2 separate regions of the Homo sapiens genome follow, and region 2 is linked to region 1. The links come from fine-mapping of genetic effects on gene expression. A gene starts in region 1. The other region holds a variant in brackets. All regions are shown on one strand. Distances are from middle to middle. Region 1 holds the start of GRHL1 (grainyhead like transcription factor 1). Region 2 has its middle 35 kb from the start of KLF11-DT.

Evidence for each region. PIP is the estimated chance that this variant, and not a neighbour inherited with it, causes the effect.
Region 2: its variant is the best candidate, but not a certain one, in a credible set for the expression of GRHL1 in lung (GTEx, PIP 0.83).

The regions. Positions count from the first base shown.
Region 1 is chr2:9,949,115-9,953,366 of GRCh38, forward strand. It overlaps GRHL1 (grainyhead like transcription factor 1), which reads left to right and starts at 2,579. Exons shown (of 16, transcript NM_198182.3): 1 at 2,579-2,739. The coding sequence starts at 2,720. It overlaps LOC105373422 (a long non-coding RNA gene), which reads right to left and starts at 1,739. Exons shown (of 3, transcript XR_922784.4): 1 at 1,591-1,739. RefSeq lists silencers at 1,810-1,889, 2,040-2,089, 2,190-2,239, 2,330-2,869.
Region 2 is chr2:10,006,233-10,010,733 of GRCh38, forward strand. No RefSeq gene overlaps it. Among named protein-coding and RNA genes, the nearest start is that of KLF11-DT, 35 kb to the right of the region's middle. The variant C/T (reference allele first, on the strand shown) is at 2,344.

The sequences.
Region 1 (4,252 bases):
AGAGGGACACTGTTCCCAAGTCAGTCACTTTGGCACCACCCTGATGACTTGTACCCTATTTGGGACCATCTGTGCTGTTATTGACTAGCATTTTTCTTAAATTAGCGTGCTTAGAAAACATAATTGATTTGGCAGGGCGCGGTGACTCATGCCTGTAATCCCAGCACTTTGAGAGGCCGAGGCGGGCAGATTGCCTGAGGTCAGGAGTTTGAGACCTGCCTGGTCAACTTAGTGAAACCCCATCTCTACTAAAAATAGAAAAATTAGCCGAGCGTGGTGGTGGGCGCCTGTGATCCTAGCTACTTGGGAGGCTGAGGCAGGAGAGTCGCTTGAACCCAGGAGGCAGAGGTTGCAGTAAGCTGAGATCACGGCACTGCACTCCAGCCTGGGCAACAGAGGGAGATTCCGCCTCAAAAAAAAAAAAAAAAAAAAAAAGGAAAAGAAAAAAATAATAAATGATTTAAACAGGAAACTAGTGGTAAGAACAAACAACAGGCTGCATGGATCCAGTGCTGGGCCCGGGGTCAGAGGACAGAAACTGCGAAGGGCGGTCTCAAGTGAGGCTGCCGATTCCGGTCCCTGAAGGCCTTGGACCAGGGCACAGAGGAGGGACTGCTGGCTGCAGGAGGGCCCTGTGACCTCATGCTGCTCCTCACTTCACCTCCTTCCCTTGGCTTCCACGCTTCCATTGCTTCCGACCTCGGTGTCCCCGTCTTCTGTCTCCTCCACTGGCTCTTCCTCCCAGCCTTTCTGTGTCGGAGGCTCCTGGATCCAGCATGGGTCCCATCCTCTTTCCTTCCTGCCTTCTCATGGCTTTAAATGGCCTCTAGACGTGGGCGGCGCCCAGATGTGAGCTTCAGCCCAGACTTCTCCCTTGCACTCCAGCCTCGTACCCAGGAGCCCACCTGATTCATGGATTTTTATCTCCCATACATCTTGAGCTTAGCACGTCCAAAACAGACTCTCGTTCTCCCCCAAATCTTCTATGCCCCAGGTCTTCTGTATCCCAGGGGATGGCAAATCATTCCTCCAGTTGCCCAGCTGGAAACGCTGTAGTCATCCTTGATTCTCTCTTTCTCTCACACCCCATATCCAATTTTCAGACAATCCTGCTGGTCCCACCTTCAAAGCATATCCAGAATTCGGCCACTTCCCACCACCTCACTCTATTGCCCTCGGCCTGCATCATGGCAATGGCCTCCTACCTGGTCCCCACCACGCAGCAGCAGAGAACTATTTTAAAATGTGAGACCCTGTCACTACCCTGCTCCAAGCCCCTCCAAGGCGTCCCCACCTAGCCCAGAGGGAAAGCCACAGTCCTTACGGAAGCCGGCAAGGCCCTGCTCAATCCGCTCCCCTGCGCCCACTATCTCTGACCGCAGCTCCCGCCTCCCTGTGCCCCACCAGCCACCCGGGTCTCCTCAAGGGTCACAAAACACACCAGGGTCCCTGCCTCAGGTACAGTCCCACCTTCGTGGCCCCTCATCTCCTTCAAGCCTGAAAGCCTCGCTCCTCCCCGCCTCCCCAGGGCCTGCCTGCTTTACCTTCCAACCAGCCACACCATTTACTTGTTTTTGTATTGCCCGTTACCCCAACTAGGAAGGCGAGGAGTTGTGTCTGTTCTGTTGACTGCCCTGTCCCCGGCGTCTGGGGCCGCGCCTGTCCGAGGGTCAGGTCCGACGCTGGGCATGTGGGGACTCAGTGAGCGGACCCTGGGAAAGACGGCAGCTCGGGAAGGACAAGTGGGGGCCGTCGCGGTGGAGTGGTGCCCGGGGCCGGCCCGGGGCGCGCGACTGCACGGGCAGCGTGGGGCGGCCGCGCGGGGAAGTGGCGCCCGGGAGGCTGCGGGGCACAGACATCGCGGAGCCCCAGGGACTGCCGCCGAGGGGACCGCGGGAGCTGCGAGGGCAAGAAATCCTAAAAGCGCGCGGCCGCGGTGGGCCAGGAGAAGGGACATTCCGGAGACGGCTCTCGGGGGAAGCCACGGGACTCGGGCGTGACAGCCTGCGAGAACCGAGAGGTGAGACGCGCGACCGGGGAGCGCGGCGACCGGCAGAGGCGCCCCCGCCGGGCGAGCGCAGGGGCAGCGCGGGGCGCTGGGGCCGGAACAGCGGGCAATGTGGGCACGGGGCGCGGAGGCCTGAGTGAGCGAAGAAGGAGGCGGCTGTACGGCCGGGGCTCGTCGCGAAGGGGATGGCCGGGGACGGCGGGGACGGCGGGGGCGGCGGGGGCGGTGGCGGGGCGCGAGCGGGGGCGCTCTCGGTGCGCGCGGAGGTTGGCGGGTGCGCGCCGCAGCCGCAGCGCTCCCTCTCCTGTCAGGGCAGGCGCGTACGGCCGCGAGTCGGGCGCGCAGCCCCGGGAGCGCAGTCCCGGGCGCAACCTCGCGGAACGCGCGGCCCCCGCCCCCCGCCCCGCGCCGCTCGTCCCCGTCAGCCCCGCCCCGGCGCTCTTCTCGCCGACCAATCAGGAGGCGCGACCGGCCTCCCAGCCCCGAGGCCTCGCCCCCAGCCGGCGCATCGCCAGCCAATGAGCGGCCGAGCCCGGCGCCCAGTGCGCGCAGCCCGCGCGGAGCCGGCTCAGAGCGAGAAAAGCAAACCCAACCCGTCGGGGCCGCCGCTCCGGACCCGCAGCCGCCGCCGCCGCCTCCTCCCCCCGGATCGGGTGTACTGTCCCAACCCGAAAGTCCAGTTCTGCGGCCCGGCAGCGGCGAGCGGGCGCGATGACACAGGAGTACGACAAGTGAGTGAGGCGCAGGAGTCCGGCCGCCGCGGGGGGGCCGCGCTGAGGGGCCGCACCTGCAGCGAGCGAGCCGGGCGCAGACCCGAGGCCGCGCGGGCGGGCGGGCGCGGGGCGCGAGCCGGGGGCCGCTGTCCACTCCACGCCGCCACGGCCTTTGCCCCTTAGCCCTGCCGTGCTCTTTGTTCGGTCGGAGCCTCGGGAGGAGAGACCCTGTCCTCGGGGAAACTCGACACCGGAGGGGCCACCCTCCTCCCCTCCTCCGCGGCCAGGTTGGGTCCCCTCGGGCGCGCACCTTGGGGTCCGGGCCCCCGGCGCGGTCGGGTGCGGCGCGAGGTCGGGGCGCAGCCAACGCCCCCGGGCCTCCCCGCCCCCCTCTCCTGCCCGGTCGGCCTCGGGAGCCTGGTGGGGCTCGCGCCGCGTCGGGACAGGTGGACTTCTCCAGGTAATCTGTGGTCTCAGGCTCGTCACTCGGCGACCTGCTGGAACCTCCAAAACAGAAATGTAGGGAAAGGTTGAAGTGCCCCGATGTCCGGGCGTTTTCTTTTCCCTGGCTGGCGGCATGAGTGGGAAAACGGCTGTAGGAGTTATTTTGCCACTTGCATCATTGATGGTAATTACAGATTACCGTGTTTTTAGTGCTCGAGAGAATCAAGAGGATGAAACTTTGAAATCCGGGTGTTAAACGAGAAAGTACTGTACAAGCTAATATGCTTTTTAGAGTGTGTGATTTAAAAGCGTATTTCGACAAATGTGAGGTGGTAGTGTAATAAGGCATGGGGGATTAACTGGGCGAGGGAGTTTTCTGTATTTTCTTTGCAGCTTTTCTGAAAATATAAAATTGTCCTAAAAATTTTAAAAACTTACTAAAGAAAAAACAGGGAAATCGCACCAGGCCAGTCAGTATATTTCAGATCAGGAAGTTTAAGGCAGATAGGTACCCCTCCCAGTTTCTTAGTTATTTGTGAAGGATCGGTTTTTGTCAGTGTGTTCTTTTTCTGGATGAGATAGATATTTTGTATGGAGTATCTTAAATGGATTACTCTTATGTTGTAGAATATGCAGTTAAATTATTGCCTGAAACATATTTCAGAAGTCTGAGAGATCGCAGACGCGGAGTTTAAGGCTCACCTGAAAGTGATGATGAGCCTTCGGCGACTGAAGCCTACTTCCTGACTGTCATGAGGAAGTGGACTAAGAAAGGCAACTGGTTTTGTGTTTATTTCTTGACGTATAGTTTAGATAAGGCAAATTTTCCAAAGCTAACATTTTGGCCTTAGGCAGGCTTTGGAAATATGAAACACCTTCAGGGTGATTCCAAACATAAAGCCATTTCTTTCTCTGTTTTCTATTGCTTGTACAAATTTGGGATGTGGGTGGGAGAAGAAGGGAAGTTGAAAACTAGCATTAAGGGAATTGAACAGCCAAGTGCTGTCATAGTCTTCTGGAAGTAGCTATTACGCTATTAATTATAGCTTAGCAGTACATCAGTCAATCAGTCCATGGCACCAGCCGT
Region 2 (4,501 bases), 57 kb after region 1:
CCTGTCCCGGCAGCCCAGCCCGCTTCACCTCTTACTGTCACTCGCCGGGGACTCTGCGGCACCTAGCCCAGGTACTCCGGCAGCCCAGAGGGAGCTCGTCCCCGACAACCAAGAGGAAAAGAGGGGAAGCGAGAAAGACGGAGACCCGCCATCGTGGCCAACGACCCCGTGAAGAGGGAACGGCGGTCCACGCACGGGACCCAGCCTCCAATCAAGCCCAGCAGGCGCCAGCCGGGCACGCCTAGTGCTGGGGCCCGCGGGCCCGCGTCCACCCGGAACCCGCGCCGGCCCAGGAGCGCCGCGCGCACCCCTGGCTCCCGCCCGCGCCTCTCTTTTCACACTTCCCCGGGAGCAGAGGGAGCCGGCTCCGGCCTCGGCCAGCCCCAGAGAGGGGCCCTCATAGCTCAGCGGCGGGCCGAAGGGCTCCTCGAGCGGCCAGAGCGGACGTCGAGGCCGAGGAGGCGCCGAGAGCCAGCGAGGGCTGCTAGCAGGTTGTCACCTCTCACCATCGGGCCTGTGTGGGTTGGTGGAGTCCCTCCCCTGTCACTGCAGACGGAGCACAGGGAGAGCGTGGCAGCCAGCAGGGTGGCTCAGTTGCCAGGCGCCCACACGAAGCACTTGGCTCTGTTCACAGGGCTGGTCTTGATAAGAGAAAGCAAATGTCCTGCGGGCCATGCAGGCTGGGGGTGAGGCTGCCAGGCTGCCAGGCTGCTCCTGAGACCAGTAGCCCCTCTGGAAGCATCCCCTGAGGGAGAGACCAAACAAGAGGAGAACCCCGCCCTCAGGCTGCTCCGGCACCTTCAGGCAGACAGGGCAGGGCTGACCAGGCAGGATCGTCATCCCCAGGGCTGTGGGCAGTGACTCGTCACAGCAGCAGACAGAGTGGCAATCTCTCGACTGTCCCCAGAGCCCTGCACGGTGTACAAAGGCTGTGCCTTTCCAGGTTCCATCCCACACCCAATACCCAACTCCCCCCTTTTTTTTTTCCGCTCTGTCACCCAGGCTGGAGTACAGTGGCGTGGCCATAGCTCACAGCAGCCTTGATGAACTCCTGAGCTCAGGAGATCTCCCGCCTCAACCTCCCAAGTAGCTAAGACTACAGGATCAAGCCTAGCTTATTATTACTATTATTATTATTATTATTATTATTATTTTGGAGAGACAGGTTCTCACTACGTTGTTCAGGCTGGTCTCAAACTCTTAGCCTCAAGCAATCCTCCTGCCTCGGCCTTCTGAGTGACTGCGATTACAAATGTGAGCCACTGCGCCGGGCTCTTTGTCATTTCTGTTCTTTTGGATCTATCCTTAAAGCAGGGTGTGCCCAGCTCAACAGTGCCTGAGGACTGCCCCCTCTGCCTGAAGCCACCGCCTCCTCGGAGGCCAGGCTGACTGCTGCTTTCATTCCAGCTCCCTTGGACTTGAGGGGGCTCCTAGTGCCTCCTCAGACCGATTTCTAATCTGGTAGCTGTTTGCAGGCAACTTTTGGAGGGTGGGGTGGCTCTGGCCTGCAGACGCAGAGGTGCTATGCAGTGAGATCATCGTCCTCATATTTTAATTCTTTAGACATGCTTTCCTTTAGTTTATTTAGCATGTTTTAAACAACAGATTTAACGTCTCTGTCTAATAAATCCAGTCTCTGGGATATTTCAGGAGGTTTCTGTTGATTTCTCCCCTGTGCATGGGCCATAATTTTTTGTTTATTTGCATGTCTGGTAAGTTTTTGTTAATAACTGGACATTTTAGGTAACATAATGTGGCTACTGTGGAAATCAGATTCTCCCTTTACCCAGGTTTTGTGGCTGCAGTTTTGTTTGGTTAGTGACTTCTCTGGACTAATTCTGGAGTCTGCTTTCTGTGTTGTGTGTGGACCCTGCAAACTCCATTCAGCAGTGCGGTGGGTGGCTAATGATTGGACAGAGATGGCCTTCGACGCCAGAGCTTCCCAGTCCTTGCCAAGGGCTCTGTGGGGTGATGGGGGTACCTTAAACACTCAGCCAGACCAGCAGCATCTCTGCCCTAGCCTGCACTTTCTGCTGCTCAGAGCGTCAAGGTCACCCAGAGGTGAGATCTCAGCTGCCCCAGGTCCTTGCTGAGCACTTCCACAGCCCAGGAATGTGCACAGCCTCCCGGGTGCCTGGGAACGTGCACGGCCTCCTAGGAGCCCGGGAACACGTTGGAGCCTCTGAACGCACCTCTGCACTTTTCACCGCCCAGTTTTTCCTCCTAAGCCTTTTGGTGAGCCCAGTGTCTGCTCCAACGGCCATGTGCCTCCTCAGCCATGAAATTAGGCAATTTCTTCCACATCATTTTTGACAAATCCCCTTGAGAAAAAGGCTTTTCTTA[C/T]GGGGGGAGCTCCCAGGCAGGTCAAATGAGGGCAGGCTTGCAAGTAGGGTTCTCCAGGGAACCGCCAGACGGCGAAATAACGACAGTTCTCAGGATTAAGCCTTCGAAGGAGCTCCAACCCCGATCTGCCACTCCCGGCGCTTCCAGGCTGCTGGGTGTTGATGTGATTGTGGCTTTTGGTTTTCAAGGCTCCCGCAGGAGCTGAAGAATACAGTGGATACCACTCAGCAAGAGAGGAACAAACCACGACCACACAGAGACACGAATCTCAAAATAACTGCGGAACTCAAGAAGCCGGACCAAAAGAACACATTCCACGTGACCCATTCATCTACAGCTCTAGAAAATGCAAACTGATCTATGGCGACAGAAAGATGGGAGGCTGCCTGGGATGGGGGCGGGGCGGGAGAGAGGGAGTATCTAATGGGGCTTGAAGAACCCTTTGAGGGTGATGATGGAGATGTTCGGTATCTGATGTGAGGACAGTTTCAGGAGTGTAGATGGGAGAACTTACCAAATGGTACACTTGAAGTAGGTGCAGTTCATTGTATATGAATTATATCTCAATGAAGCTGGGTTTTTTCATGAAAAGATGACCTGGATCTCTCTCTACCTGCAAACATCTGTCTCCATCTCCTTCTCCTGGCTTCCCCCAGCTCCAGTCTGCCTGCATCCAGAGTTGGCAGGACCCTGTCTCTGTGTGAGATGGCAGCTCCCAGTGGGTCCCTGTGGACACGGCTCTGCCCTTGCCCACCTCTGCCTGCACAGCTCCCCGGCAAGAGTGCCCCCCTTGCCCTTGCCCTGGTGAACACCTACCGACTGCCAGCCAAGCCCGTGCGCAGAGCCCCTCCTGCTCTCCCTGTCCAGGGCTCGCCTCTGGTTGTTCTGGAATCCTCTGTGTATGAAACTGCTTCTGTCCGCAGCAGGTGGCTTTGGAAGGGCACTGGGATGCGGTGGCAGCAGCCGGGCTTCCGCATCTGCTGTTGAAACAAACTCAGCAGCAATCTGGAAACAATCTAGAAGCCTGGCGGACGTCCCGCACCTGTGTTCGGTGGGGGCTGTGCGGTCCTGGCCGCAGCCTGGAGGGGACAGGCCTAGCTGAGGGATGAGCACAGTCCGCTGCTCTCCTTCCTGCCTCTGCCTCTCTCCTCTATGAGCCCCTGCCCATGGGTGAGGAGGGCCGGACGGTTAGCAGGGGCCCCATGGGGAGGCCCCACAGCCACCAGACCCCTGTCCAGCCAACTCCTCCCCTTCAGCCATCGCACCCTGGCATGGCCCCAGAATGCCCTCCTGTTGGGACAGCAAGGGCTGGGGCCTGGAGGAGCCTTTCCAAGCAGGAGGAGGGAGGCACCACCATGGGGCCTCCTCTTTCCACGGCCCTCCCTCCCCACGCTGGTCTGCACCTGCCCTAGAGACCAGAAGCCGGCCAGGCCTGTCCGCAGGTCTGTGTAGCTGGCCCAGGTGGCTGGCGGCCAGGCCAGGGCTGGCCTATGGGTGTCTGGCCCGGCTGGCCACCGGCCACCTTTCTCCCACTGGCCTTGGCCACAGCCCCACAGCTGGCGCGACGCTGCGACCTTTCCCCTACTTCCAGCTCTGGCCTCCAGATCATTCCAGGCCCCTGAAGTTTACATGAGTCACATGTCGCTGGCAGACTCCCACCCCGTTCCCTCTTCTTGCTCTGGGTTTAACGGGCCACACTGGAGAGCAGGCATGGGGCCTTGTGCCCCTGAGCAGGGCCAGGTGTGGGACCAGAGCCTTCGTCGTGCCCAAGGCCTGCAGGCCTCAGAAACCCCAGCCCCACACCATGCCGGTGCTCCCAGCTTTCCCTGAATGTCATTCGTCATGAGGGCTGAGGTTCAAGGACCCACTTACTCTGGTGGCCACTTACTCTAGAGGCCTGAGTACGCCAGGCTGTGAAGCTCTGCCAAGTACCTGGGAATCTATATCCATGCGGGGCACCATCTCAAACTGCATGAGTCAGGTGGGCAGGCGTGCATATGGGCGAGTCAGGTGGGCAGGCGTGCGTATGGGCGGGTCAGGTGGACAGGCATGTGTATGGGCAGGTCAGGTGGCCAGGCGTGCGTATGGGCGAGTGAGGTGGGCAGGCAAGTGAGGTGGGCAGGCGTGCATGTGGGCGAGTCAGGTGGGCAGGCGTGGG